Regions from separate parts of the Homo sapiens genome. Here regions 2 and 3 are each linked to region 1. Evidence: fine-mapped expression QTL. A gene starts in region 1. Each other region holds a variant in brackets. All regions are shown on one strand. Distances are from middle to middle. Region 1 holds the start of LMBRD2 (LMBR1 domain containing 2). Region 2 has its middle 12 kb from the start of UGT3A2. Region 3 has its middle 140 kb from the start of RANBP3L.

Region 1 (10,333 bases):
AAACATAATCGTTATTCACATATTTAAAGATTTCAGGTATGAGAGAGTTCAGTTTAGGACACAGACTACTGCAAGAGACTATTACTCCCACTCGAAAAATGAAAAAAAAAAAAAAACCATCATAATATTTTTTAAAGGTACCTAAGAGCTGAGTTGGCGAACCAACCAGGTAACCTGAATTCCAAAATGTGACAAGCCCCTGAGGACAGTGGCATACTGTCCTGCTTTACCTTTTGCAAGGCATGAAGAGAAGAGGTAGCAATCATGTAAGCATATAAGAAAAAAGAACTAAAATTTTACTGAATTCTTAAAGATTTCATACATAGAAATTGCAAGACATTTTGATAGAGAATAATCTGTAAAGTCCTTCCTAATAATAAAATAATTTCAAAAAACGAATAGCTAACATTTAGAATGTGTTCACTAAATTTTAAGCATTGTATTAATACTAGTACCTGCCAAGCTTTATCAAATTAGACCTCACAACCTAGTAAGAAAGGGCTGTTCGTTTCCTTGCTTAACAGAAAAAAAACAGTGCAGAGAGGTTAAGTAACTTGTCCAAGTTAACAGAGCTGGTGAATGGTAAAGCTGGGATTCAAATAGAGGCATCTTTACTACAGAGCCTGGATCATAATTACATGTCTCTTCTCTAATCTAGACATAGTTTCTTAATGCAATTTAAATTGCTTAATGATTTATTTTGTTCAGTCTTCACAGGGAACAAATTAGAAACTTTCTCCCATTTCTTTTAGATATATCAGGACAGAATGCTTAGTCATGTTTAATAAAGAATTTAACGCAAACTTTTTACATTACAGATTATACTACTATTACTTGATTTAAGGGTAATATATGACTGTACTCTACATGGGAAAAGTGGAAAACATAGAGTAAATTAGAATCCGTTTGTTCTTGCCCCAAGCTGCCTATCTTAGAGCATTAAATTACAATGAATTAAAGATCTACTTAGTTCCAAGCACCATTCATTCATTTAGCAAATATTTACTGAACGCCTACTATATGGTGAGCTCTGTTCAAGGGGCTGGAGATAGAAAAATCCAAGCAAAGTCCCTGCCCTTAAAAAGTCTAGTGGGAAGAAACAGGCAATTAAAAAAAATACATTAGGGGGTGATAAGGGTTATGTAAACAGGTAGCTGCCACCACCACAGAGACTATCAGTTCTGGAAATACATTATTCAAGATTAGTTTGGCTACACATAACAGAAAAGTCCAATATAGTACAGACTTATACAATGCAGAATTTATTTCTCGTGTAAGTCTTGAGATAGGTGGTTATGGCAAGTTAGCAGATTATCAGAGGCCCAGGCCCCTTCTATAGTCCACATCCTTAGCAGGTGGCTTTAATCCTTATGTTCCAGGACAGATGCTGGAACTCCAGGAATCCTATCATCATCTAGACAGCAGGATGGAGAAACAAAGAAGGGTGGACCGTCTTCCTTTTAAAGAGATGTAAGAATCGGCTGGGCACGGAGGCTCACGCCTGTAATCTCAGCACTTTAGGAGGCTGAGGTGGGTGGATCATCTGAGGTCGGGAGTTCGAGACCAGCCTGACCAACATGCAGAAACCCCGTCTCCACTAAAAATACAAAATTAGCCAGGCGTGGTGGCGCATGCCTGTAATCCCAGCTACTCAGGAAGGCTGAGGCAGGGGAATTGCTTGAACATGGGAGGTGGAGGTTATGGTGAGCCGAGATTGCGCCATTGCACTCCAGCCTGGGCAATAAGAGTGAAATTTCTTCTCAAAAAATAAAAATAAAATTAATCAGAAAAAATAAGATACATCAGTAGCAATCACAATGCAGTTCTTTATGACCAGATAGCAACCTCTATGTACCTACTAATCTCGTCTTCAATGGACACAATTCCTTACGTTAAAAAGAATCTAATGTACCAATTTAAACTTGCATTTATTATATTAAGGCAATAGTCATGATTAGAAGGAAGGCAAAAAAAAATTATTCCCATATTAGGAAGATGAAGTATGTCTGTTACCGGGGCAAACTATCAAACTGAATTTCAAAACTGACAGGCTCTCCCTGAAGTCCTAGAGAGGATCTTGTGTTCACTAATTCAGATGTTGCAAGTATTCTAGTTCCCAGGTAACTCCTAGTAAAACCAAGACTGAACAAAGATATTTCTCATCTTTAAATTTAGAATCATCTCATCGATTAAACCTTCCTATCTATGAGATCTATATCTGAAGTGGGCTCTCCCAATTATTTTACATCTCAAAACTGTTTATTCTCATTATGGCATCTTAAATATTTTTGTTTATTCTTTCTCCTCCATTAGCTTACAGGCTCTCTCTGTTTTGTTCCCTTTCCTGAAGGAAACTATAATTTTTTGTGTCAAAAATATTTTCTCCTATGAGTTGCAATCTTCAGGGAAAGGACGTAGCTTCAAACAAAGGCAAATGCTTTCTCCTTAGCCAAAGTAACATAAAGGTCACTTTCTGTAAAACATCAGGATATTGCATTTTAAAATGCTTTCCATATAACATTAGTTTGATGAACGGCTTAGCCTAGGATTCTGCACCTAGTTCCAATCAAAACCAAGTTGTGAACAGATCCCTTCTTTACACCAATCTCATCTTTCAAGAACGAGCTAAAGGTTCATGAATTCCTTCCTCAAGAGGCAGTTACTTTTCAAGCTAAGGACCAAGCTTGAAACAAGCATATACCTGCACAAGGGAGGTTTAATTTCACTACAGAGCGAATCATTTTTTCAAGGAAACCAGAGGGTGTGTCATACAGCATCACTGAATATTCTAATATGCGATGAAGCTGTTATGCTTCCTTATGAACTTTATAAATCTTCATTTTTATGAGGCTTAGAATTCATCCCCCTTCCCTCTTCCACTGTTTTCCCGGGGTCACAGTTGTAGTATAGTTTGCCCAATGGATTTCGCATGGTCATTGTACCTGGAATATGTCACGCTCCCTACTCTTACTGCCCCCAAACTCTTCTCAGCAGAGATAGGCTGAAAGCAGCTCGCTTTTAGGCGGCGACGCAAACACACGTAGCCAGCTGAGCGACAGCAAGCAACCAAATGGCTTTGCTGGAGGCCCCCTGCGTGCACGGGTAAAGCTCGTTGCAAAATACAGTCCTTTCATTTATTCCCATGTTGCTATTTATGAGACCTGTCAAGGCTGCAAGGGCATGCGCAGCCTTCCCACCACACAGGACCCGCTGGGGTCTCCGGCTCCCCTAAAATTAAACCATTGTCTCTCGTTCCAACGGCGTGTTTAGCTGTTGTGCGTTATTTTACAGATAAAGGAAGGATCCCGTCCACAGACCCAATTCTTAGGGCCGCCTTCTCCCCGACGGAGGAAGAAGCTTCCTGGCAAAAGGACGAACAGGTGCGACGCCAGCAGTTCGCAGCCTCTCACCTGGCCGGCGGGCTGGGCTACTGTCACCACTCAGCAGCCAAGGACTTGGGCCCCGCAGCGGCGGCCACTCGGGGTCTGCCGGGTCCCCTCTCTTTCCGCCTGCTCTCGGCCCCGGACCCCAGACTCAAAAGCGCCTCACGCGTTCCGCCTTAGGCTCACCGTCCGATCTCGCCAGACAGCGTCTGGACGGGACCGGGAAACGGCGGCCGCCACAGCTGTCCAGGTTCTGGGATCCACGCTCAGAGACGACAGCGCTGGCGATCACCAGAAGGCCTGCGGGCTCCCGAGAAAGGAAAATCCGTCTACAGTCCAGCGGCTGACATTTCCCAGTCAGCCGTAGCGCCGCCCGCTTCCGCCTCCCCGCCTACCCCGTGGGCCGACCAGTCCCGCTCCCGCGGGGGGTTGTGGGTATCTCGAAGGCGGGTAAAGCTGCAAGGGAAGGAAGTAAGGGCGAGCCCGTCGGACTACGAAGCGGGACGGAAACTACAATTCCCAGCAGGCCTTGGGCCTCAGTGCGGCCGCGAAGCAGAGCGGGCTGTAGAGCCTTGCGCGCGCAGTGGGGATGGAACGTTGCTAGGCTTAGCGGGTCTGGCTGCTGGGGGCCCGAGCAGCACGCTCGGAGCCGCCGCGCGCCAAAGCGGGAATCTGGGAGGCGAGCAGCTCTGCAGTTAATGCACGTATTTTAAACTCCCGGGCCTGCGGACGCTATGCACAGGTAAACGGATTGCAAAAAGGGGAAGAGCATGAAATGGACCCTCTTAATAATTCTTTTAGGCCGCGAATATCGCTACTGGCTAATATTGTTAGTAATGCTGTTAAGTGAATGGTTGCTTAGCCCCTTCTTGGGGAAAGTGTGAATGGATGGATGCCTTAGTGCGGGGATCAGCGTGTGGTTTTATTTGGCTTCCCTAATTGGGCTTTTCTGCCACCGTTTTCAATCAGTGTATGATTGCCCTGTCTCTCTCCTTGTCTGTTCCCTCCACTGGGAGAAATTCTTGAGGCCTTCTGCAGGATCGTAAGTCAAAAAGCCTTCTCGATTTGTTCTTTTCATTTCTTCGTTTTCTTGGTAACTCGCCGCAGGCACATAAAAAATGCGATTCTGTTAGCTGCTGTGAAGGTTTCCTACAATGCATAAACTGCAGCTTCTTTAATTGCCTTGAAATTATTTATGGGTGTGTTTTCGAAAGGAACCGGGGGTATTGTGCACTTCTGCAGGAAGCACCTCCAGGAGATTCCAGACCTGAGTAGCAACGTTGCCACCAGCTTCACGTGGGGATGGGATTCCAGCAAGACTTCTGAACTGCTGTCAGGCATGGGGGTCTCCGCCCTGGAGAAAGAGGAGCCCGACAGTGAGAACATCCCCCAGGAACTGCTCTCAAACCTGGGCCACCCGGAGAGCCCCCCACGGAAACGGCTGAAGAGCAAAGGGAGTGACAAAGACTTTGTGATTGTCCGCAGGCCTAAGCTAAATCGAGAGAACTTTCCAGGTAAGGACATGAGGGTAAAAATGTCAGTTATGCAAAGGGTGGATTTAGCTATGTTGTTGGGAAACCTTTGTTCAGAGATCTTTAGCATGGGTTCCTTTTAAGATTGCCTAATTCTGAAGCTATTTTTCAACAAAATAGGGCAAGTCGTCAAGTATGCAGGAATCTTGGTAGATATATATATATATATATATATATATATATGTATGTTCTGGTGCATAATCACCTTGAAAATTTTAACCCATGAGAAGACATTCCTGCCTTTTTCCTTAGAAGGGAATCTGCCTGCCTCAAGGCCAGCTCAGTTTCACCGTTTAACAGAAACATAAACAGTGGTCTTCTTGTAGGATTCCTTTTGCTTTGTACCCCTGAGTGATCTTTTTGCCTTAATCACTTTAGTTATTTATCAGTGGACTGCGAAGTGAACGTTCACCTAAGTGGGGGAGACATCTCCCCAGGCCCACTCCCACCCCCATATTGGCTTCTCCTGGTATGTTCTGTCTCCATTACTGCTGACACTATCTGTTTAATCACCCAACCCGAAAACCTGAGAGTCAGTCAGCTTCCCACCGCCCCCCAACATCCAGTCATTCATCGCATCTTTCCCTCTTCTCTGGTAACTATTTCTCAAGTTCTCGTCGTCTCTTGCCTGAACTATTGGAGTGGATTCATAATTCCAACCTTCTTCTCCCCAGATCTATCCCCCGAACTAGAATGGATTGACTGAAATGTAGAACTTACTGTATCTTCCCTCCTTAATAGCTCCCCATCCCCTAGTTCCTCAAGCAGGCGAACGAGTGCCTCCCAGAGTGAACCAGAACCCTGGAGTATGCAAAAGCCATAGGATAAACAGGGCATTGACCTGGGGTTATCAGTTTTTCTTACTAGTAAGCTATTTAAAACAGTAATACAGCAAATATTTGCTGAGCACATACCATGTGCTAGGCCGTGTTCCAGGTGCTGGAGATAGAGGAGTGGGCACAACAAACATTTCTGCTCTCAGGGAGCATCCATTCTAGTGAGAGAATACAATAAACACAATAACTATTTTTATATAGTATGTTAGAAGGTGATAAGAGCTATGGCTAAAAACAAAAATAGAACAAGCCAAGAGGGAATGCAGGTCTTGGGGTGGGAAGATAGAGTGCACTTTTAAACCAGGTATTGAGAGAAAGCCTCAATTGGACAGTGACCTTTAAGCAAAGACATAAAGGAGGCAAGGAGTGTGCCATGCAAATATCTTGGAGAAAAGAGCTCCAAGCAGAAGGAACAGCCACTGCAAAGACCCTGGTGCATAAATGTGACGTATTTGTTCCAGGAACAGGGAAGCCATATTCTAAGAGTGGAATGAGCGAAAGGGAGAGTCGGGGGAGATCAGGCTGGAGGTAATGTTGAGCAGAGTTGTGATGGGACCTGATTTAACCTTCTAAAAATGACACACTGATGTGTTGAGACTCAGCTGCAGGGGCATCAAGGGTAGAAACTTAGGGTCTTTTTTAAATTTCATATTTTCAAGACGGAGTCTTGCTCTGTTGCCCAGGCTGGAATGCAGTGACCTGCTCTTGGCTCACTGTCTTCACCTGGATTCGAACGATTCTCCTGCCTCAGCCTCCTAAGTAACTGAGACTACAGGCATGCACCACCACGCCCAGCAATTTTTTTATTTTTTGTAGAGATGGAGGTTGCGGGGGCGTTCTCACCATCTTGCCCAGGCTGGTCTCAAACTCCTGGACTCAGGCGATCCTCCAGCCTTGGCCTCCCAAAGTGCTGGGATTACAGGCATGAGCCACCACACCTGGCCAAAGCTTGAAGTCTTGTTGGGGGTGAGGGTGGTCAGATTCCGGATATATTCCCACATTAAAGTCAACAGAATTTAGGAGGCTGTTGAAATCATCTGTGGAAGAGGTGATCAGAGTCTAAATTGAAATCAGGTGGGGGATGATGGCGAAGAAGAAACAGATTAAACATTTAAAGATGAAGTCTTGCAGACCCAAGGTAATTTAAGTATATTCATAAATTCTCCCATCTGGTTTCCTTTGCAGAAGGGTTGATAGATTGGTTGTTTAGTTGATTGGTTGGTTGCTCGCTTTGGCAGCACATATACTGAAACTGGAAATACAGAGAAGATTAGCATGGCCCCTGCGCAGGAAGACATGCGGATTCGAGATGCATTCCACTTTTAATTAAGAAAATAAATACGTTTGTTTTCAGCCTTTTCTTTAGGAAAGAGAACTTTGCCCAATTTATGGTCTGGGAATATACATCAGGAATTGGATTAGTTAGAAAAGCAGTAGAGGGTTGTAGTGAAGTCAGATCTGGGTTTGAATCCTCATTCTTGCGTTTATCAGCCTTGGAAAGTTATTCGAGCTTTCTTTGCCTTAGTTCCTTTATCTGTGAAATGGAGTGCTGTAATAATACCCACTTCACAGGTCGTCGTGAAGATTAAATGAGAATGACGTAAAACCCTTAGCATGCCACTGACACGTAACAATACATAAGCCAACAAAATTCCTGACACCAATTTTGGAGGCTAGTGGACTTTTATCTTTTGTTTTTAATATTGTTACTCTGACCCTGTTAGTATAAAATTTTTTTTCTTCAAAATTTAATGTTCACCGCTCTTCTTTGTGTCTGGAATGTAGCCCTAACAATCTGGTGCTTGACCAACCAAATATGGCGAAAGATACTTCCTGCTAAGATGAACAGATTTTTATTAACCTGTCCAGTGCCGATAGCTTTTGACATAGAGTGTGATTGCTATATGCCCTTCCACAAGTGAAAAAGAATTTTTTTTAAGCAAGGCACTGTGGGAACAAGACAGAAGTTTCCGGAGTCTTTGCTATTTCCCAGGAATTTGCAAGTCAAGTTGAGGAGAAAATACAATAAAAAATAAGAGCTGTGATTCCCATTCAGGTGGATGTGGAAGATCTTCCTCCTTCCACTCAGCAAGAAAGGAGATTCTGAGGAAAGAGAGGGCTCTGAAAATGGTGTAATCAGTGTCTTGATGGTTAAAGCTGACTTCAAAAGTATATATCTGAAGGGAGAGAGAAAGAATGGTGACTTTTATGTTTATTACCTAAGGAGAGGCACAGAGGGAAACCAATGTACGTGGACTTACAACAGAGATTGCTTAATTGGTGTGGAGTGGGGAAGGGTGAAATCAGTGATGCAGGATGAGGGACAGCTGGTATAGAGGATTCCCAATGGGCCTTTGGAAGCCTGGGCCTCCAGTGGAGCCGGATTGTCATTCCAAGGAGTTTTGTCTGCAGTTGTCAGGACAGGTGGCTACTAGCTTTGCCAGGATTAGGGTAGAACAGGCCACACCTGCTGTACATAGATATCTGATGACTGGTTCTGGGCTGCAAGTTTTTGTTGGTTCTTTGCTAAGCAGTTTCTCCCTGCAGGCCCCAGTCCAGCCGTACATCTGGCAACTAAATCCTCTTCATCCGTTTATCTGGGAAGATGAAAGCTCTGTGGCCAACCTGTACTAGAACAGGTCTGATTGGCCCTTGGAGTGAGTGTATGGAAAGAGTTGGGGAGGAAATGGCCCAGCAATGAGGTCAGTAACAGGCGGAAAGGGGACAATTGCATTTTATTTATGGTCATGAAATGCTTGTCCCCCACCCCACCCTTTAAACAGGTGATAGCCATGAAAATGGAGGTGAACTAATTTGTTGATCAGCTCTTCCATGACTCTTAAATGCTTGAAATTCCAGACCCTAAAGTGGTTGTCAGACTGGAGATACTAAAATTTACTGTATATCAGAATCCCCACAGGAACTTGTTCAAAGTGTAAAATTCCTGAGATTCTGATCCGGGGAGTCCTGGCCTGAGTGAGCCTGGGAATCTGTGTCTTAATACCCTTAGGCAAGCATTTTTTCCAACTTTTTTTTTTTAACCAGTAAGAAACATATTTTACATTGCAATCCTGGGTATGTATCTGAAACAGCAGTTTTACAAAACTGTATTTCCCCTTACTAAGATATTTTCTATTCTGTTCTAGTTCATTCTTTATATGTACATATATGCTAGTCAAACCCACTAAATTGATTTCATGATCTATGTGAGTCTCAGTCTACAGTTACTAAACTCAGCACTGGAAGAGCCTTTATGGGATCTTCCCAGTCATCTTTCTTTGTTCCATAGCTTCCTTTCATTCATCCATTAAGCAAATATTTCTCAAGCACCGTTTTAGAGGTTGGGACTACAATACTGAACATAACAGGCAAGAGACCCTGCCCTCATAGTGCTTATACACTGTTCCATATTTTTTCCAAATCCCAGCTTCTGTTGTTTCTTCATTACACCCCCTACACCTCAGGGTTGAGCAAGTCTTTCATAGAAATAAAGGGTTGTGGGACTGAAGGGGTACATGGGGGAATCCTTGTTAAGTTTGGCTGTGTTTTGTTTTTTTCAGTTTTGCCCACCTTAGCCAAAAAAACAAAAACACCCAAAGCCAACATGGCCTCAAATGTATTATTTATGGTTTGTGGGAAGAGGAAGGAGAACTCATCTGGGATGGCACAATCTGTTTGTAGTTCCCCAGAAAGAAAGCATGGGGTATTGCTACTTAAAACAAGCCAGCAAAAGCAATTCTGAGGTGAGCACCCCCCAACTCCCTGAAAGAAATGCACACACACACAAAAACAAGTATGAGTACCAGGTCCTCAGTATACATTTCTGCAAGTATAATCTGATTATGCTTAAAGAGCAGCAATTTTTTAAGTCAAAAGTTTGATTATGATTAGCATTACTTTGGATTTTCAGCTTGAATCTGAGTGGAGTGGAGTGATGTTCTGAGAAATAAATGAGTGGAGTGATATTCTGAGAAATAAATATGTCAAGTAAGATGAGTTACCTACACTGCAAAGATGGAATGCATAGAAAACTCTCCAACAAGGCCCTCTTCCCAGAGAATTTCAGGAAGCATGAGATGTGATAAGGTTACAGAAGTGGGAAACTGGGTTTGCACCTGAGAAATAATTGGAAACAGTGGTAGGTGAGGGTGATTGTAGTAGGTTTGCTGGTTTGGCCCAGTTTTTGCCCTTTCCTGGCCCTGAAGTATATTTAACTGCCGTCCATGTCATTGAAGACTGGAGACCTTGGGCTCAGTAATTATGTCTTTTAATGTGGGTCTGGTATGCAGCTACAGCCTTGCTGGATTTAGCAGAGACAAGTGGAGAAAAGACCTCTGGATTTTTCCTTCCGCTCTCTGCAAACAGACCAGGCAGCAGTTTCATCATGAATTCAGGAAACAGATGGCTAATGTTTTGAGAATTAAATATGGCAAGGAAAATTAGATTAAGCATATCACAGCCTGGATGCCTATTGCTAGAGCAGCTATTAAAGACAAACTTCTGCCCCATCTGCTGGGACAGCAGCCCATATCAGGCTGTGGTACCCCCACCCGGGGCCCCTAGGATTAGTGTCATTCTGTGG
Region 2 (10,333 bases), 74 kb before region 1:
TGCACCCACATTTCCTTTGCATCAAGGGGGACTTTGGAATTCCCTCATACCTTATACCTTAGGGCCAGTCCCAGCTGAGGGTTAAATCACCAGGAGACCCACAACACCCCGGTGATATACCAATCCCCTGTGCTTGTAAGAGTCAGAGTGGGCTGTGGAATGTGTCTGGCTGGTGATGCAGTAGGTCAAGTGTGTGGAGTCTAAGTCCCTAGGCAGGACAAACTGCTTTCCACAGGGACTGAAGTAATTTACATCCCCACCAACAGTGTATAAGCTTCCCATTTCTCCATAGCCTGATCAACATCTGTTATTTTTAGACTTTTTAGTAATAGCCATTCTGACTGGTATAAGATAGTATCTCATTGTAGTTTTCGTTTGCATTTCTCTGATAATTAATGATGAGCAATTTTTCATATGTTTGTTGACTGTTTGTATGTTTTCTTTTGAGAAGGTCTGTTCATGTCATTTGCCTAATTTTTAATGAGGTTATTTGTCTTTTTCTTGTTGATTTGTTTAAATTCCTTGTAGATTGTGAACATTAGCCCTTGGTCAGATGAATCATTTACAAATATTTTCTTCCATTCTGTAGGTTGTTTGTTTACTCTGTTGATAGTTTTTTGTTGTTGTTGTTTTGTTTTGGGTTTTTTTGCTGTGCAGAAGCGCTTTAGTTTAATTAGGTCTCATTTGTCAATTTCTGTTTTTATTGCATTTGATTTTGAGGACATGGTCATAAATTCTTTGCCTAGGCCAATGTCCAGAAGTTTTATCTAGGTTTTTATCTAGGATTTTTATAGTCATAGATCTTATATTGAGCATTTTATCCATCTTTAGTTAATTTTTATACATAGAAAGAAGTAGGTGTCCAGTTTCATTCTTCTGCATACAGCTAGCCAATTTTCCAGCACCATTTATTGAATAGGGTGTTCTTTCTCCATTGTTCATTTTTGTCCACCTTTCAAAGATCAGTTGGCTGTAGGTGTGTGGCTTTATTTCTAGATTCGCTGTTCTGTTTCATTTATCTATGTGTCTATGTTTGTACCAGCCCCATGCTGTTTTGGTTTCTGTCGACTTTCAGGATAGTTTGAAGTTAGGTAATGTGATGCCTGGCTTTGTTGTTGTTTTGCTTATGATTGCTTTGGCTGTTTGGGTTCTTTTTTTGGTTCCATATGAATTTTAGAACAGTTTTTTTCTAATGCAATGAGAAATGATGTTGGTAATTTCATAGGAATAGTTTTGAATCTCTAGACTGCTTTGGGAAGTATGGACATTTTAACAATATTGATTCTTCTAATCCATGAGCATGGAATGTTTTTCCATTTGTTTTGTGTTGTCTACAATTTTTTTTTCAGCAGTGTTTTGTAGTTCTCCTTGCAGAGATCTTTCATTTCCTTGTTTAGATATATGCCTAGGTATTTTGTGGGGTTCTATTGGTGATTGTGAATAGAATTGCCTTTTTTTTTTTTTTTGAGACACAGGCTGGAGTGCAGTGGCACGATCTCAGCTCACTGCAAACTCCTCCTCCCAGGTTCAAGCGATTCTCCTGCGTCAGCCTCCTGAGTAGCTGGGATTACAGGCACCCACCACCATGCCCAGCTAATTTTTGTATTTTAGTAGAGACAGGGTTTCACCATGTTGGCCAGGCTGGTCTCGGTCTCCTGGCCTCAAGTGATCTGCCCCACTCGGCCTCCCAAATTGCTGGGATTACAGGCGTGAGCCACCATGCCCGGCCTAGGATTGCATTTTTTTATTTTTAAATTTTAACTTTTGTGGGCACATAGTAGGTGTATATATTTATGGGATACATGAGGTATTTTGGTACAGGCATGCAATGCATAATATGCATAATAATCAGAATTGCATCTTTGATTTGGTTCTCAGCTTGAACACTGTTGATGTGTAAAAGTGTAAATGATTTTTGTACATTGATTTTTTATCCTGAAACTTTACTGGTCATTTATCTAGTCTAGGAGCCTCTTGGAATAAGCTTTAGGGTTTTCTAGGTATAGAATCATATCGTCATTGAAGAGAGATAATTTTACTTCCTTTTTTTAAATTTGGATGTCTTTTATTTTTTTTTCCCTTGCCTGATGGCTCGGGCTGGGACTTCCAGCGCTATGTTGAATAGAAATGGTAAGAGTGGATATCCTTTCCTTTTTCCGGTTCTTAGGGGGAATGCTTCCAACTTATGTTTATTCCGTATGATGTTGGATGTGGGTTTATCATAGATGGTTCTCATGTATGCTTCTTTAATGCCTAGTTTGTTGAGTGTTTTTATCATGAAGTGTTGTTGGATTTATCAAAAGCTTTCTTGTATATATTGAAATAACCAAATGGTATTTGTTTTTAACTCTGTTTATGTGGTGAATCTCATTTATTGATTTGCACATCTTGAGGCATCATTGCTTCTCAGGAATAAACGCCACTTGATCATGGTGAATTATCTTTTTGATGTGCTGCTGGATTCGCTTTGCAGGTATTTTGTTTAGGATTTTTGCATCTTTGTTCACCAGCGATATTGGCCTATAGTTTCCTTTTTTTGTTGTGTCCTTGAAAGATGTTGTATCAGGATGACACTGGTTTCTTAGAATGAGTTATGGAGGAATCCCTCCTCCTCTACTTTTTGGAATAATTTCAGTAACATTGGCACCAGCTCTTCTTTGTATGTCTGTTAGAATTCAGCTATAAATCCATCTGCTCCAGGATGGAGCAGGATGTTTTGTTTTTTAACGAAAACAAAAACAACAAAAAAACGGTCTCACTCTGTCACCCAGGGTGCAGTGAAGTGGAGTGATCACAGCTTCTTGCAGCCTTGACTCCCTGGGCTCAAGAAATCTTCCCACCTCAGCCTCCCAAGTAGCTGGGACTACTGGCACACACCACCATACATGGCTAATTTTTGTATTTTTTGTAGAGATGAGATTTCACATTGGTGCCCAGGCTGGTCTCAAATTCCAGGGTTCAAACATTCCACCCATCTCAGCCTCCCAAAGTTTTGGGATTACAGACATGAGCCACTGCACCTGGCCGAATTTTTTATAGTGGGTTAATTTTTATTACTTATACAACTCCAAAACTCATTATTGGTCTATTCATGGTTTCCATTTCTTCCTGGTTCAACTTTGGGAGGCTGGGTATTTCCAGGAATTTATGCATTTACTCTAAATTTTCTAGTTTGTGCCCATACAGATGTTCATAGCAGTCTCTGAGGATCTTTTATATTTCTGTGGAATCAGTTGTAATGTCACCTTTGCCCTTTCTGATTGTAGTTATTTGTATCTTCTCTCTTTTTTCCCTGCATCTAGCTAGTGGTCTATCAATCTTGTTTATCCTTTCAAACAACTAACTTTTTATTTCATTGATCCTTTTTATGGCTTTGGGGGTCTCAATTTCATTTGTTTCTGCACTGATTTTAGTTATTTCTTTTCTTCTGCTAGCTTTGAGTTTAGTTCTTGTATGTTTGTTCTTGTTCTTTTGTTTGTTCTTGTTCTTGTTCTTTCAGGTGCAACATTAAATTGTTAATTTGAGATTTTTCTATCTTGATGTAGGCATTTAGCACTATAAACTTTCCTCTTACCACTGCTTTTGCTGTATTCCAGAGATTTTGGTATATTATACCTCTATTTTCATTCATTTCAAATAATTTTTTATTTCTCTCTTAATTTTATTATGTACCCTAAAGTCTTTCAGGAACAAGTTGTTTAGTTTCCATGTAATTGTGTGGTTTTCAGAGCTCCTCTTGGTATTGATTTCTAATTTTATTCCACTGCGGTGCATGATGATGCTTGGTGCAATTTCATTTTTTTAAATTGGTTAGGATTTGCTTTATGACTGAGCATGTGGTTAATCTTTGAGAAAGTTCTGTGCACAGATGAGAATAACATATATTCTGTGGTTGTTAGCTGGAGTATTCACCAGATGTCTATTAGTTCTGTTTGGTCAAGTATCAAATTTAAGTCCAGAATTTCTTTGTTAGTTTTCTGTCTCTGTGATCTGTCTAATGCTGTTATTATGTTATTATATGGCTGTTTATCTCCTTTCTTACTTCTGGAAGTAATTGTCTTATAAATCTGGGTGCTCCAATATTGAATGCCTATATATTTAGGATAGTTAAATCATCTTGTTGAATGGAACCATTTATCATTACATAATGCCCTTCTTTGTTCTCTTTTACTATTGTTGGTTTAAAGTCCGTTTTATCTGATACAAGAATTGCTACCCCTGCTTCTTTTCATTTTCCATTTCAGTGATAGATCTTTCTCTATCCTTTTATTTTGAACACGTGAGATGGATGTCATGAAGGCAGCAGAGGGTTAAATCTGTTTTTTATCCATATTGCCATTCTATGTCATTTAAGGAGCGCATTTAGGCCATTTACACTCAAGGTTAATATTGATATGTGAGGTTTTGTTTCTATTGTGGTATTATTAGCCAGTTGCTAGTTGTTAGCTAGTTGCTTTGTAGTTTCTATTATGTAGTTGTTTTATGTAGAGTCTATGGGCTTTACTTACACGTGCTTTTGTTGTAGCAGGTATTGTTCCATGCTCAGAACTCCTTTTAGCCTGGATCTGCAGCTGTGGTTTGGGCAGCTGCAGTGGCACCCAGGAGGGCAGGGTTCCTGCCTGCTCCTGGACCTCAAGAGCACAGGGAGGCTTAGATCTGCCTGCTCCATGGGGCGTGCGACTCCTGCCTGCTCCGTGGGGCTGCGGCTCCTGCCTGCTCCTTGGTCGTGCAACCCC[G/A]TCCACACCCCTCTACTGCAGCCTGCGTGATGGCAGCGGCAGGCCATCTGGAGCTGCCGCTGCCATCACTTCTGCTTAGTTTTTTCTATTGTTATGTCTTCCAGCTGTATTTTGAAATCTCTGTAGTGAATTTTTCTATTCCAGAAATTCTGTTTGGTTCTTCCTTAATATAACTATGTCAACTTACATATCCTGGATCATTTTTCTGGTTTCTTTGTATTAGATTTCAACTTGCTCTTGGATCTCATTGTGTTTCCTTGCAATTCATATTTTGAGTTACCTTTCATTTCAGACATTTCCGTCTAGTTAGGATCCATTACTAGGTAGCTGGTGTGATCCTTTGGAAGTGTAAAACACTGTTGCTTTTTGTACTACTGGAGTTCCTGTGCTGATTCCTTCTCATCCAAAGATGCTGTAACTTCTTTTTTTGAATTTGCTATCATTTGGGTGAGGCTTTTTCATTTTTTAATTTTTTCCCTTGGGGGTGTATGACTGTGGTGCATATTGTGTATGATCATTTGGCTTAGTTTCTAGGTGCTTTCAGGAGACAAGTATTCTGTACGGGTTCCTTGGTTGTGGATGGGTTCTAGGCGGTGGAACCTATCCACAAGCTATCTCAGATGCTGTTTGCTGTAGCTATGTATTTTTTGTTTAGTGGTGGAGTTCAGATGGAGCCCAGTAGATGGCGATAAAAAGTAAGAGCTACCAGGTAGGCTGATGCCTAGTGTACGTGCCCTCCCTGATGAGGATGGCAGAAAGAGATCCTGTTGGAGTATGCTGAAGTCTCACGGGAAGGTGGAGCAGAAAGTGCATCAGCTCCTTGTCCTGAGCTGGCAGGAACACGATCTGCTTCCATATCATGCCCCGTCACAGGGCTCATGACCTGTTTACAAAGGCTTTGTTCTTTGGTTCCCGGCCACAGTGTAGCTGTACACCACAGATTGACCTCTCTGAGGGATACCACTAGTATGGGGGTCAGGGCAGAATTTCTTCCCCCAGTCCAGAGCAGGAAACTTCATGGTCTGTCCTCAGTTGCCGGGGCACGGCTGCTCCATATAGGGAGGGGAAGTTGGACCCCACCCTTCATCCCATTCTATTGTTAATGAGAATCTGATTGTTACCAGCTCTTACCATCATAAATAAAGCTACAATGAACATTCTTATGCATGCCTTTTGTTGGAAATGTGCATTCATTTATCTTGGTATGAATCTAGGAGTGGAATTCCTTGATCACAAGGTAGGGTAGGTTAAGCTTTCTTAGATATTACTAAAGAGTTCTTCTAAGGATTGTACCAGTTTCCACTACCACCAGCAATGTATGAGAGTTCAACTTGCCCCACAGCCTTCCCAAATCTGGAATTGTCAGTAAGTCTTTTTAGTGTTAGTTATTAATATCTCCTTGTTTTAATTTGCATTTTCCTGATTACCAATGATGTTGCATACTTTTGAAATATATTATTGGCAATTTGGGTAGCCTTGTTTATGAAATGCCTAAGCAAGTATTTTGTCATTTTTCAAATTATGTGGGATTTTTTTTGTTTTGTCTTATTTTTTGTAGGAATTTATATATATTCTCGATCAGAGTCCTTTGTTCAATATACATTGGGTGCTGTCTTCTCCCAGTATATGACTGGTCCTTTATTCGCCTAACGGTATCTTTTGATTAATGGAATTTCCTATTCATAATTCTAAGGTATTTATTTTTTTATGTTTAGATTAGTGCTTTTCATACTGTCCAATAAAAAATACCTTGCATATTCTGAGTTCAAAAATACATCGCTTGTTTTTTTCCAGAATCTTTATTGATTTATCTATTATACTTCAGTCTATGATTCATTTCAAATTTTCTATGTACAGTGCTGGGCATTTTTTCCATGTGGGTATATAATTGCTTCAGCAACATTTATTGGGAAAAATTTTTTAACTTTTATTTCCACATTGTATTGGGGTTTTGGTCATAAAACAAAAGATCATTTTTTGTGGGGTTATTTCTGAATACTACTATTCTGTTTCATTGATCGACCTTGATAGCCTTATTCTAATATTATACTGCCTTAATCACAGTAGCTTTAAAGTAAATCTTGAAATCTGGAATTCTAATTTTTCTGAAGTTCTCCTATTCCACATTGCAAACAACTTGTTAATTTTAACAAAGACATTTATAGTATAATTATATAGTAATTTTATAGTTTTCTCAAGATTTAATTGAATCTAGACATCAATTTGGGTAAATTGATTTCTTCACAATGTTAATTCTTCCAATCCATCTCCAGTTAATTACATCCTCTTCAATTTTTTCCAAGGTTTTATAGTTTTCAGTGTACAGATCATTTAATTTATTTAAAAGATTTTGTTTTATGATTATTATAAAATGTACTATGACATTTTATGTCAATTTTCAATTGTTTATTTCTGGTATATAGAAATACAATTGATATTTGTAAACTGACCTTTTATCCTATGACAAGGTTGGGTTCATTTAGTAATAGCTGTAAAACCAGACCTGGTACTGAGAGTTTACTGAACCATTTGTGATTCCCTTGGATTTTCCATGTACCTAAATGCATAATCTGCCAAGAGTTTTATTCTTTCTTTTTTATTTTATTTTTTGGCCTAATTGCATTCCATGGACTTCCATATAATGTTGAAAGGAAATGGCGAGAGTGGACCTGCCTGTCATGTTCCTGACTTTAGGGAAAAGAAATAGAGTTATTTTTTCACCATTGAATGCTACGTCAGTTTAGAATTTGTAAATACTTTTTATTAGATGAGGAAGATTTCTTTATATCTAGTTATGAAATAGACAATTTTTGAATATAGATCAATAAATTAAAATGCATGTTATAATCCCTAAGGGAACCACTAGATACACGTACGCATACACATACAAATACACATGAACATACACACCCACCCACACACATGCACACACACACACACACACACATACAAACTAAAAAGTCAATAGGGGAAATAAAGCGGTGTAATAACAGTATACCTCTAATTCACCCAAAGAAGACACAAGAATAGAAATTAAGTAGCAGGTGGCACAGCTCAGTGCCCAGGGAGTCCTTCTTAGCCCACAGTTTCTCCCAAAGGAGAAAATGAAAACTGAATTACAAGTTTTCTCAGCCTGTGGTACACTGCCCACCCAGAACATTAAGGGGATCAGGAAAATTGAAATGTCTGGGACAGCTAGAAGCATTGAGAAGGGGAAGAAGTACACAGCAACTGGTGTGTGATTCTCAATAGCTGGACATGGATTCTGCTAAGTGGCTTGAGGATTCTAGCAAAAGGCCCACCCATAAACCCCACACAAGGAAAACTTGCTGGCAGACTCCCCCATTAACAAACTAATGCATGCCTTAAACATACTGTGTGTCCATCCAGGATGTTGCCCTGTGCATCTCTGTGCACAAGGCCTAAGTACTCCTGCAAATGGCACATGGATCTGAATAGCAGATGCAGATTTTAGCAGCAGGTTCAACTCCATTGGAATGTGAAAAGAAGCACACAACCTTGAAAACTTTGGGGCATTGTTGGGTAAAACAGATAAACTCTCAGTACCAGGTCTGGTTTTACAGGACTGAGAGACAGAACATAATCATAAGACTTCCTCCCTTAGAGGGAACAAGAGGAGTGAAGCAGATGCATCCATAGAAAAGGTCTGAGAGACCCCAGAATCTCTAGTGGGACTTACTGAGGAAGGTCTATCTCTCGCAATGCTAGAAAGTAGACTGACATAGGTGACTACTTTTGCAAATGCAAACAAAGAAAGAAAACCCTCAAAGAACACAAAGAATCAATGAATTATGGTATTACAAAAGGAACACTATAAAGCTCTGGTGGCTGACCCAAAATAAATAGAAATCTACATACGGCCTGACCAAAAAAAAAAAAACAAAAAATAATCATTTTAAAGAAGCTTAGTGAGTTACAAGAGAACAGATAGACAACTAAGTGATATCAGAAAAACACTACAGGAACAAAATGGAAAGTGCAACAAAGGGACAGAAACCATAAAAATAAGCCAACAGAAATTCTATACAATATCTGGCTGAAAAACTCAATAGAAATCCTCAACAGCTTGATAGAAATCTAGCAAGTAGAAAAAAAAGAATTTGACAGCTGCTCTGTGAAAACCTGTACAGACTGCTTTTCAAAATGGGTCCCTAATCCCATTCCTCCTCAATGGGCAGGACCTCCCAACCAGGGTCTCCAGCCACCCCTGCCAGTGCTCTCCAGCCAACAGAGTTTTGAAACCTCCCTAGGACAGAGCTCCCAGAGGGACAGTGGGGCTGCCATCTTTGTTGTTTGGGTGACTTAGCTGTTCTGGCCTTTAGATTTTGGAGAGTCCAAGGCGATCAGGGGCTGAAGTGGACCCCCAGCACAGCACAGCTGCTCTACGAAAATGTGGCCAGACTGTTTTTTTAACCAGGTCCCCGATCCTTTCCTCCTCACCAGACAGGGCCTCCCAACCAGGATCTCCAGCCACCTCCTATAGGTGTGTATGGGCCAGCAACAGGTCCATACCTCCCTAGGACAGAGCTCAATCTTTGCTGTTTTACAGCCTTCAATGGTGATACCTCTAGGTACTGGAAAATCTGAGGTGACTGCAGACTGGAGTGCACCCCCAGCATACTGCAACAGCCCTATGGAAAAGTGGCCAGACCGTAATATGGGTGCCCTTTCCGATATCTCCTCATCAGGCATGTCCTCCAGCCCTCGGCCTCCAGCAACTGCCCCCAACCCCAGAGCTATCAAGCCAGTAGCAATCTGGCAACTCTCTGGACAGAGCCTCCAGGGGCAATTGAAAGCCTCTCTGCCACTGCCTCTGCAGTAGAACTGCCTTTGCTACCCTTCAACTAACAAACAAGCAAAGACCCTAAGTGCTTTGTTCACACCTCCAATAAGCTGCAGTTGACCTAAGGAGAGGAGGCCAGTCCATCTCCCATGGGTCCCACATACCCCTCACTGCTCATCTTAAGACAGGGAACCCCTGGCTTGGTCCACAATACAGACCCTTCATCCTGAGCTGATTGCACTCAGCATTTGCTGACTTGCATCTCTCTGGGGTGGAACCCCTAGAAGACAAGCAAAATGCCCTTGGCCACAACCACTACTAAGATCCCTTCTTTTGCTCCTTTCAAGTTGGGAAAGGAACATAAACACTGAGATCACCCCAGAGCTGTAGTGGAAAGCCCAAGAATGCCAAGCCATGATCTACAGCCAGCACTCAATGGGGAGAGAAACCCACACCCTCAGAGCATTAAGAAGGAACACAGTTGTAACCATGAGGAAACATAAGGGAGACACATAACCAAGTAAGAGTTTACCAACTAACCAATAAGCCTAAGTTCCACCTACTGGATCACACCCTAAAGCTTCAACACCAAAAATACCTCACTAACATACCCTCCTGAAACCAGAGACAAGAAGTCAGCTACAAATAAAGACCCTGCATGAAGCCATGGCCCAATGAAAACATCCAGAAAAGAAGTCTATTGGCTGTACTTAACATACACTGCAGTTAAAGGAACACCCACATGCAGAGATGAGAAGGAACCAACGCAAAAACTCCAGTTACTCAAATGACC
Region 3 (10,333 bases), 280 kb after region 1:
GCCCACCAAAGTTCTGATGACAGTGGTGGTGTGGCCAGAGGATTGGGATAGTGGGAGGTGGATGGGGGGAGGGGAGGGGGGAGGAAGAAAGGTATGGTCACACCAGCAGGATGCACGTGCACATGCACACTGGTTGGGAAGGGAAGACAAGGTCGCCCCAGGTGTACGCATACCAGCAAAAGGATGGTGCAGGGAGGTCATGGGCAAGTGCATGCAGGCAAAGTGGCACAGGGGGAGGCTGCATCGGGGGCAGCACAGGTGAGCTGGTGCATGTTCATGGGGCCCACTCTGCTGGAGCACTCTGCCGGTCAGGTGGTCCATCAGCACAGGAGCTATGATGCAGGCCCCCAAGGCACCAGAGGCTGCCTTGCAAGCAGGCACATCCAGGCTGGGTCCCAGAAGAGGCCAGCAGACCAAGGGGTGCTCAGGTCAAAATGGCCCCGTCTCATGGGCAAAACCTCCCTGCAGAGTTCAGGTCCAACAATTCCCCCAAAGCTAAAATATCTTATAGGAATAAGTCGAGCCTAGAGAGATGGGCATCTTGATATCAGGTAGTGATAGTCTCCACATCTGTTCTTTCTCAAAGTTGTTTTAGCTGTTCTGGGTGGTTCTTTGCATTTCCATATGAATTTTTGGATCTGCTTGTCAATTTCTATAAAGAAGTCAACTGGGATTTTGACAGCATTGCATTGAATCTGTGGGTAAATTTGGGAAGTATTGTCATTTTAACAATATTGTCTTCTCACCTATGAACATGTAACACATTTTCGTTCATTTACTCCTTATTTCAAAAATGTTTTGCAGTTTTCAGTGCACAAACCTTGCATTTCTGTTGTTAAATTTACTCCTAAGTGTTTTATTCTTTTTATTCTATTGTATAAAAATATATAAAAATATAAAAATACAACTGGTTCTGTAATTGGTCTTGTATCCTGCAACCTTGTGGAAATTTCTTATGACCTCCAATAATGTGTGTGTGTGTGTGTGTGTGTGTGTGTATTTTTTAGGATTTTCTATATACAAGATTGTACCATCTGTGAATAGAGGCAATTTTACCTCTTCCTTTCTGATCTGGATAACTGTTATCCCATTTTCTTGCCTAATTGCCCTGCTTAGATTCTCTGGTACAGTGTTGAATAGAAGCAGTGAGAGCAGATACCCTTGTCTTGTTTCTGATCTTAGAGGAAAAGCACTCAGTCTTTCACCATTACATGTGATACTAGCTGTGGGTTTCTCATAGATGCCCTTTATTAGGTAGAAAAGGTTCCCATCTGTTTTTATTCTCTTGAGTTTTTTAAATCATGAAAAAGTGTTAGACCATTAATTGATCTTTAAAGATTAAACCAGCAGGATTTTTTGTAGATTCTGTATAGACAAGCTGTTTCTAAAATTTATATGGAAGAGCAAATGAGCTAGAATAGCTAAAACATATTCACCATGGTCAGCCTAGGCCAAGTCATCATCACCTGTCATGTGGATTATTTCCAGTCTCCTCCAACTAGTCTCTCTATGACCACCCTTGCCACCTTATAGATTAGTCTTACAGGCAGAGTGACTCTCATTGTACCTAAGCCAAATTCTGTTTCTCTCTTCAGTAATCTCCCACCTCACTCAGAATAAAACCTAACATTCATACAAAGGACCAGATATCCAGTGTCACTTGCCACCTTTCTACCTCTCCCACCTTATCTTCTCCTACTTTTTCCCATGCTTACTCTGCTCAAGCTACGCTGGTCTCTTTACTAAACTCAAATATATAAAGGATACTCCTGACACAGGGCTTTCGTTAGCTCTTCCCTCTGCCTGGAATTTTCTTCCTCAAGATACCCATATGTTTCATTCCTTCATTTCATCAAGCCTCAGCTCAAATGTCGTATTCTCAGAGAAGGTTTTCCTGCTCACTCAATAAAATAGTAATCTTCACTTCTGTCACTTCTGCTATGTTTCTTACTCTAATGTGTTTTTTTTAGTAGTTCTTGCTCCCACTCAACAAATTCAATATTTATATTATCACTTGTTCTTTTTCTACCTCTTCTTCTTAGATATTAGCTTTAAGAGAGCAGAGACATTATCTGCTATATCCCAGAATATTCAACAGTCCTTGGCATTATAATAGATGCCCAGTAAATATTTGTTGACTAAGGGAATGCTTCTGTTTTAAAGAGAATTTTTAAATTTTTGATGTAATCAAACTTAGTAACCTTTTCCCTAATGATTTTTGCTCTTGTGTGTCTTAAGAATAATTTATAAACACCAAAGTCATAAAAAATTGCTGATATTTCCTTCTAATATTCTTGAGCAGTTGTTCATTATTTAGATCTTTTGTACATTTTAATTTTGTACATTTAATTTAGTGATAAGGTATAGGATAAAACATTTTTGTACGTGTAAGATAAAAACTATTTTAATAATGCTTATCGAATTTTTCCTTTTCTTCTAATTTGAAAAGACAATTCTAACATATGCTCTTTCTCTTCATCTTACTTTTTCTCACAATATGTGTATTTCTTTCATCATTAAAAATGTCCCATAAACATCATTTTATTGTTGTGTAGTATTTCAACCTGTGACAATGCCAACATTTATTTAATACTTTTTCAATAATTAGATATTTGACTGTTTCCATTTTTGTTTGTCTAACACTAAAAGGAACATCTATATAAATGAAACGTCATTCGTATTCAATTGTTTACTTAAAACATATTCTTAGAAGTAAAACTGCTTGGTCAAAGAATATGAACATCTAAAGTTCTTATACAAAGTGCAAATTATTCTCCAGAATAGTTAGACCAACTTGCCCTTGTTTGAGCATTTACCAGTAAATGAGAATACAGGTCCCACTATACATTTACCAACGCTAGTATCAAATATCTTTCTCCTTTCTTTGACATTCTTTAAATATTTATATGCTAGGCCCCAGGCTAAGCTCTTTACACAGATAATCTCATTTAAATTCTACAATTCTATCAGATAAGTACAACCATAATCTTCCTTTAACACATAAGAAAATTGAGTCTTCAACAGATTACAGGACTTGGCCAAGGCTACACAGCCAGTGAGTACTAGAGGTGAAACTTCAACCCAGGCCAACTAACACCAGAAGCAGAGCATTTTAACCAGCTCTACTTTTCCTCAAATCTTTACCAATTTAAAAGGCTAAAAAAATGGCTTCTCTTTTAATTTGCATTGCCTTGACTACTAAGGAAGATGAACATTTTATTCTGGGCTAATTGTATTTACTTCTAGATCAATTCTATAGGTAGCAGTAATCTGAGTTCCAATTTGGTCATTAGAAGGTGGTATGCTGGCCTCAGCGTAACTCAGATTTTAGAAGAGTAAGATTTGGATTCGAGTTGCACTTTGTTGGCTCAGCTGTGCGGTCTTGAGCAAGTCACTTAACTACCTGGAGCTTCAGGCTCTTTACTTGCGAGATGAAGGTAGATATGCTTTTTCTCACCAAGTTGTTATGAAGACTGCTGAGATCAAAGGAGTTTAAGCACATAAGCAAACAATGAGATACAAGGCATGAGAAACACTGGGCTAGGAGCTTTCCAGTGTCTCCATTATTCTTCCTATCTCCATGAAATAGGCAGTATCTCCATTTCATAAGTGTGAAAAGTAATTTGACCAAGGTTACACTGGTAGTAAGTGGTAAGAGTACTTCTAAGTGCTTGGCACATAGAAAGTCCTTAGTAAGTGTTCATTCATCCAGGAACACATCACTCTTTGCCCCAGAAGTGGAGATGAAGTCTCCCCAGTTTCTCAAGAGATGAGGGCAGCATTTTTTCAGAGAGAAGAGAAGATCCTTTAAAGGACAATGCTAATATTATGGGAATAATAGGCATCAAAGGAAGAAATAAGAAGATAATCAAATGTTATCCAATTCCTTTCTTTATTTTACCTAAAATTCAGAAAAGATCTAATGACAATCCCCTCAGCAAACACTAAACTTTCCTGCAACAAACCATATACAAGTTGCTCCTACCATGTGGCTTTTAAGCCTCATGCACACCGACTTTTCTAGAGCATTATTCTCACGTGGTTGCTCCTCTTATGCCTCCAGTGCAAATGAGATGGAAGTTAAATAAGAGCTTTCTTACTTTATTGAATTCCCATTGATAAACATCTCCCTTGCAATCGTCTTGGCTATTCTCTCTTGTGGGAGAGACAGAGAGAGAATTAGCTATTGTTTTCTAGATTCAAACCCTCCCTTCTATGTTCTGTGATGCTGCTGTGTCATCTGACACCATGTTACACTCTACAGTAGCTAGCACTAGAGGATGACTGCAAAGTTGGCAGAGGAAGAACTGACTTGCTTCTCCCTATGGCTTCTTGTTGGGTTTCCATGGGCTTCATGGTCCTGCCAGCACAACCCTAACAACACTTCTTTTCCCCATCAACACCAGCAGACAGGCACTCCAATCTCAGATGTCTTTTTCTCTAGGTTTCTAAGTTCTAGAAATTCCAATCTCTTCTTTTGTTCCACAGCCCTAAGGATGGTAGCTGCTTCCTGCAGTCCCTCCTCTGTGATACATCTTTTTGCCTTTTCAATTCTTCAACCCTAGTTGAAGAATATAATCATTCATATTAAATGTTCTTTGTCAAAATAATTAGTGTGGTTTCTGACACTGAGTGCTATCAAGGAGGTGGAAGAGGGTAGGACCAGGAGATTATTAAAATCCTTTCGACAACAAATGTCCATGTTCTTGTACACTGGATTCACTGGAAATCCAGTCACTGGGAATCCAGTCTACAAGATTCAAATCCCACAGTTGCTTCTTCCTAGCTGTGGGAACCTTGGCAATTTTCTCCCAAGCCAGGAATCCCTAAGTTGCAGAAGGGACTTGAGATAACCTGAACTTGGGCCAGTGTGAGGCCCAGGGGAAGGTGGGGAGGTTCCCAGTCTCTGCCTTCCCTTGGCAAGCCTTCAAGCTGCCCAGTGTCCAGTTCTACTCATCCTGGTGCAATCCTGCCAGTGATACCAAACCAGACCCATTCTACCCATCACACAGCATGCAAATCACTGAGAAGACGAGTTTTGCAGCAGAGAAAGAGTTTATTTACAAGGAGCCAAGCAAGGAGGTGGGAGAACAGGTCTAAAATCTACCTCCTTGAAGACAGGGCTTAAGGCTATTTGTAGGGTAAAGAAGCAGGGTGGTCTAAGGTGTGGGGAAATGTGATTGGTAGTGGGGAAAAATTAGGTAATTAGTGGTTTGCACAAGCATAGTTGATGTTCATGGCTCTTCACAGGACTTA[T/C]GTTCAGAAAATGGTGATGTTAGCATGATTGGAGGGAAGAGTTTTAGGCCCTTTGACATCAAAAGGTCACCTCTTAGGCATTTGCACAGGCCCAGTTGAAGGGTTGGTGGTCTCAACTGGTTCAAACTGGACAAGAAACAGCTAGGTCCTAAGAAACAACTAGGTCCTAAGAAACAACTTCAAGCAGCCATTAGTGTAGTGCCATATACATCAGAGCTGTTACCTATATGGAATCTAGTGGCGGTGTTTGTTATGTATTGTGTGGCTACATGACTTTTAGCCAAACCGTATATACAGGTTTTCAGCTCAACTAGAAGCAGATGATTAAAAGCAAGCAAGACAGGTTAACCTAAGTTTGGGGGGCTTAATCAAGTTAGCCCTTGGTTGCACCAGCAATAAAGCATGCATGAGAATGGTGACCCCTGGGACACATTTCCCTGACACCTTAGGGGCATTTTCCTGGCATCTTCAGCTGTGGAAAGATGAGGTAGCCACCAATTCTGGGTCCAACAAAATTGGCATTAGTTTCTTTCCATTGGAGAAGAGACACACAGGAGGAAGTGTGGACAGTGCCCTACACTCAAGGCAAGGCGGCTAACTCGAACCTGCATGGGGACAGGAAAGATGTGCCCCCTCCTAGGATTAGCAGGGTCTAGAATTACTCAAAGTTGATGGTTTAACATTGATTTTAAGATTATAAGCCCTGGTGCTAGACTGTCCAGATTGAAATCCCACCACTGCTTCTTACTTGCTTGGGGACCCTGCAATTTTCTCAACCTTTCTATGCTTCAGTTTCTTCATCTGTGTAATGGGGATAATTAGAGTATTTACCTCATAATGTTTTGAAAGGGTTGGATTATTTACCTTATGCAATGCATTTAGAACAGTGTCTGGCACATAAAAAGTGATATGAAATGTGTACCTACTTGCTGATGATGATCTGTGTATGACAAGCTAAGCAACAGAGAGATGCACAGACACCCACGTGAACAGAGAAGTATGTTTTGATGGAATCTTTTCAGTCAGAAGAGCTACTTGTTAAGATACTTTAGGTTGCAAGAAACAATAAGCCCTAGGACAAATGGCTTGAAAGGGAAATTTATTATCTTAAACACAACAAGTTCAGAGTAAGGCAGCTTCAGCAGATCAAAGATGCCATCAAGGACACAGCTCCTTTTCATATTTCTTTTCTACCATTCTCTGCAGAATATTTTGTTTCCGTTTTTGTTTTTGTTTTTGTTTTCTGAGGCTTGACCTCTCATGTTTGCAAGAGGGCTGTAGTAGATTTCACCATCCCAGCCTTGAGACAACATACAGGGCATTGGAAGGACTTTAACTCCCCAGTGTAGCATTTAAAGATAGAGGACAGCCTTTTGCAGATGCCCCTCCTTCAACCCACCCTGAAGGCTTCTTTCTCCTTCTCATTGGCTAGACTGTTTCTCATACTTATGCCTAAACCAATCAAGATTACTTAGAACAATCAAGAGTCACAGCTGAGGAATAGGCATGAAGCTCACCTCCCCTGAAACATATGACTGCACAGGTGGCTATATGCCCAAACAAAATCAGGGTTCAGTTAGGAAGAAGAAAGGCAAAATGGCTGGTGGGCAAAGAACCAAGAGTGACTGCTACCATGGCCTTCCCAGCACCCTGCACAGCACACAGTCATTGGCCTGTGCATAAACTTGGCTCTGTGCCCAGATTGACCGCACTGACATTTAGGAGAATATATGGGGGAACAAGAAACCTGTCTCCCCACCTCATCAAGGATATGAGGGCCAAAATAGGTTTATTCGTCTAGACCCCAAACACACACAGACACACTGTTGGGGAGTGTTTGTCAGTTAGGAGAAGTGTAAGGAATGGAAAAGAGTGAGGAGAGGAAGGGGAAGCCAAGCGCTGAATAAATTGGCATGTCAACAAAGGATGGAGAAGAGAACATTAGCGCGAAAAAGAATGGGAGCTGGAGAGTCCCCAAGCACAGAAGCTGGGGAAATGAAGGGACAAATTCAGGAAGGAATGTTATTTAAAATGTGTGCACATCTGAGGAGCAAAAAAAACAGAAGAGTGGCACAAAAGGCCAAGCCAGAGGGGGAAGCCTGGGAGCAGAAGTTGAGAGGGGGACTCTTTCAGGCAAGTGTAATAGCAAGGATACAGCAATGACCCAAGCACCAAGTCTGTTTTTCCTTAAAGTGAAATCTATGCTGTTCTGAAAGTATATGACTAAAAACCTGCTATATCCATGAGGCAGGAGGCTGGAAGCTGGGGCAGAGTGGCAGCCTGGGGCCAGAGATGCACAGACACCCATGTGAACAGCTCCTGACAGGGAGGGGTGGGGGTCTGAGCTGCCAAGCTCTGCCTGGGAGATCTGTTTACTTTTTCATGCCCAGATCTTGAGGGGCACTTTTGGCAATGTTTACTGGGGACCCAGACCTCACTCTTGGTCTCCCACAGTGCTAAGACAGGGGCAAAAGGCTCAGGGTGACCGTCTACTGACTAGGAGGCTTGGAAATATCTGAAATCTCTTTAACCCCAGGTTCCCTTAGTGGCTGCATTCTCTGATGAACACTTTTAGTAGTTGAATCCACAGAGGGCAAACTCAACGCTTCTGGGTACTGCTGCTGTAAAAACCAGGAGAATAATGAGAATTTATTGCAATTATTCTTTGACTAAGCATGGTATTTGTTCAGAAGAAACACTTTAATAAGTCATTTAAGGTGGTTGCTAGCACATAGCCTCATGCACAAGGACTGTGTATCGTTACACAGAAGGAAGATGGTGAGATGCTACACCCTGCCAAAGTAGCTCCCCGACCATCTACGCAAATGTTTAGTAAAAGTCTATGAAACCTCACAAAACTGTGGCGCGAGTAAACTTTTTTTCTGGGACCAGAACAGAGGCTGTATCTTGCTCCTAAGATGAAGTGGGGGTGGGGGAGTGAAATTATCAGCTCATGTGAATACAGGAGTCAGGGACAGCTCTGCTGACTCCTGGAGCCCCATGAGCAAAGCACTACCTCAGACATCTGGGCATATGGGGCCTGGGTATCTATCAATCAACCAACCAATCAATCAGAAATCCAACCAATGGGAATTTATGAGGCTCTGGCTTTATGCTGGGCTCATATGAAAGCACATATGGCAGATACAAATTACAGGAAATGAACGGCATTCAAGAAGTTTACAATCAAACCTGGGCACCAAACTCAAACCAAAAAAGGGGTTTAAAATGTGTGTTCATGACTATGAGTACCATAGAGATCAGAGACTCAGGGAGACCAACAAAGTTGCAAGTAGTCATAGTTTAAGGAGGAGATGGCTTGGAAGCAGGGAAGTATGATCAGTCTTTACAGAGAAACAGATGGGAAGCGGAGGATTCCAGGGAAGCATAGAGGCAGGTACGAGGAGTCAGGGACACGTGTGGCGAATGTGAGGGGCTCTCGGTCTTGCTGGCATGAAACTGGGTGATTCTGGGACCTAAGCATCAAGAGAGGTGAGAGGGAGATTCAAGGTCAAAACAGTCTCCATAGCTCAGAGAAGGAGGACTGCCCGCTAAGCAAACATGCTCACACCCCAGATAGAGTGAGTTTTCAGAGCAGAAGAGCTGAGGAAGCTTTTTATGTGATTTATAACGGTCTGTGACCCCAGACAGCGGCACACCCCAGCCCCCAAATGCCACTGCAGAGAGCAGAGATGTGCTTTTTCATAAAAATGTTATTTTACTTTAATGCAAAAGTCAGGAAAATTAATCTGGGCCAAAAGGAGAATTTCTTGTAGAGACCTCTGGTTTCCCCATAAATTCTCCCCAAGTGCTCCCAGGCCACAGCGCCCCTGCTTCCAGTCTGCAGTCTGTTGGTATTCAGCCTCTGCCCTGGACCAGGAAATTACCAATTCCAGTCTCACACAAGGAATTAAGGTTGGAACAATACAGTATTTTACAATCCAGTACAAGCTGCATTTATCCAGAGCTTTTCATGCATGGCATCTTAAAGTTCTTTATGACCCTTTTTCTTAAAAAAAAAAAAAAAAAAAAAGGAAAAAAAGGAATTTAAAAGAGAAAACCTTCTAAAAACCCAAACCCCCACTGAACTAAATGAGCCATTCAGAGTGAATAGGACTTAACAGTGGCCTTCAGAATAGGAACAGAGGTCCCACTCGGATGGAACAAGAACAACAGAATCAAAGGAAAGTACAGCTCAGAGAAGGCTGCACAAGGCCTGAAATGTACCCCTCGGCCCTTGGGGCACTGATGGGCTCTGCGATCTGTGACTGGCACAACCAGCTTTGGATGGGGATCAGAAGATGGGGATGTGGTCCCCATGATTCAGTGAGTGCAGAGGGGACAAGAAGGTCACCTTTTGGCTCTGAAGATAGTCAGCACCAGCCTCAACATTTGTTCTCCCCACTTGGCGAATACCCTCCCCAAAGGCCACTAGACTAGGAAAGGAAGTGGCTATATTATGTGCCTTTGGATTCCAATCCTAATCCTAGCTCCTTCTCAGGTACCCAGAGCCCTCATGCTACATTCTGCTACAGCCCCAGCTATGCTTGCCCTTCTTGGAAATCCCTCATGTTTTGAACAACCACCACACACCTCTTCTTTCCCCCTCTTGTTGCAGTCTCTCATTGCCTGAGGTAGTACCCAGAGTCCTTTGTCTCATGACCAAGAAAGTTAAGGAGTGCAGACACCAAGGTTGGAGCGAAAGTTTAATAAGTGAAAGAAGAAAGCTCTCCACTGCCGAGAGGGGACCTGAAAGAGGGTTGTTGTTTTACAATTGAATGCAAAGGTTTTAATAAAACACTGATGAGAGCTGGGCATCTTATTTATATAAGGTGCGAATTTCGGGTAGCTATACCCCTCTCTCCTAGTGCACGTGCAGGCCCTTAGTTTGAGTTACTCCATATTGCTTTGTTCGCCTTACTGTGCATGTGTCAGGAGATGGAATTTTCCATTGCGGGCATGTCTGGGCAAGTCACCTGTGTAGCCTTTCTTATCTGTATGTCTGTGGGCATGTCTTAGGTAAGCCCCACTGTGCAAGTTCCCTTATCTGTGCCTGCAGGGTGTTTGTTTGAAAGAA

Evidence for each region. PIP is the estimated chance that this variant, and not a neighbour inherited with it, causes the effect.
Region 2: its variant is fine-mapped to the expression of LMBRD2 in whole blood (TOPMed, PIP above 0.99).
Region 3: its variant is fine-mapped to the expression of LMBRD2 in lymphoblastoid cells (GTEx, PIP 0.99).

The regions. Positions count from the first base shown.
Region 1 is chr5:36,148,146-36,158,478 of GRCh38, forward strand. It overlaps LMBRD2 (LMBR1 domain containing 2), which reads right to left and starts at 3,742. Exons shown (of 18, transcript NM_001007527.2): 1 at 3,411-3,742. SKP2 (S-phase kinase associated protein 2) reads left to right here and starts at 3,966. Exons shown (of 10, transcript NM_005983.4): 1 at 3,966-4,125; 2 at 4,626-4,897. The coding sequence starts at 4,118. It also overlaps the pseudogene RNU6-1305P. RefSeq lists silencers at 3,013-3,072, 3,673-3,812 and enhancers at 3,026-4,009, 4,083-4,272.
Region 2 is chr5:36,073,937-36,084,269 of GRCh38, forward strand. No RefSeq gene overlaps it. Among named protein-coding and RNA genes, the nearest start is that of UGT3A2, 12 kb to the left of the region's middle. RefSeq lists an enhancer at 5,479-5,528. The variant G/A (reference allele first, on the strand shown) is at 4,737.
Region 3 is chr5:36,432,296-36,442,628 of GRCh38, forward strand. No RefSeq gene overlaps it. Among named protein-coding and RNA genes, the nearest start is that of RANBP3L, 140 kb to the left of the region's middle. RefSeq lists an enhancer at 9,761-10,333. The variant T/C (reference allele first, on the strand shown) is at 5,257.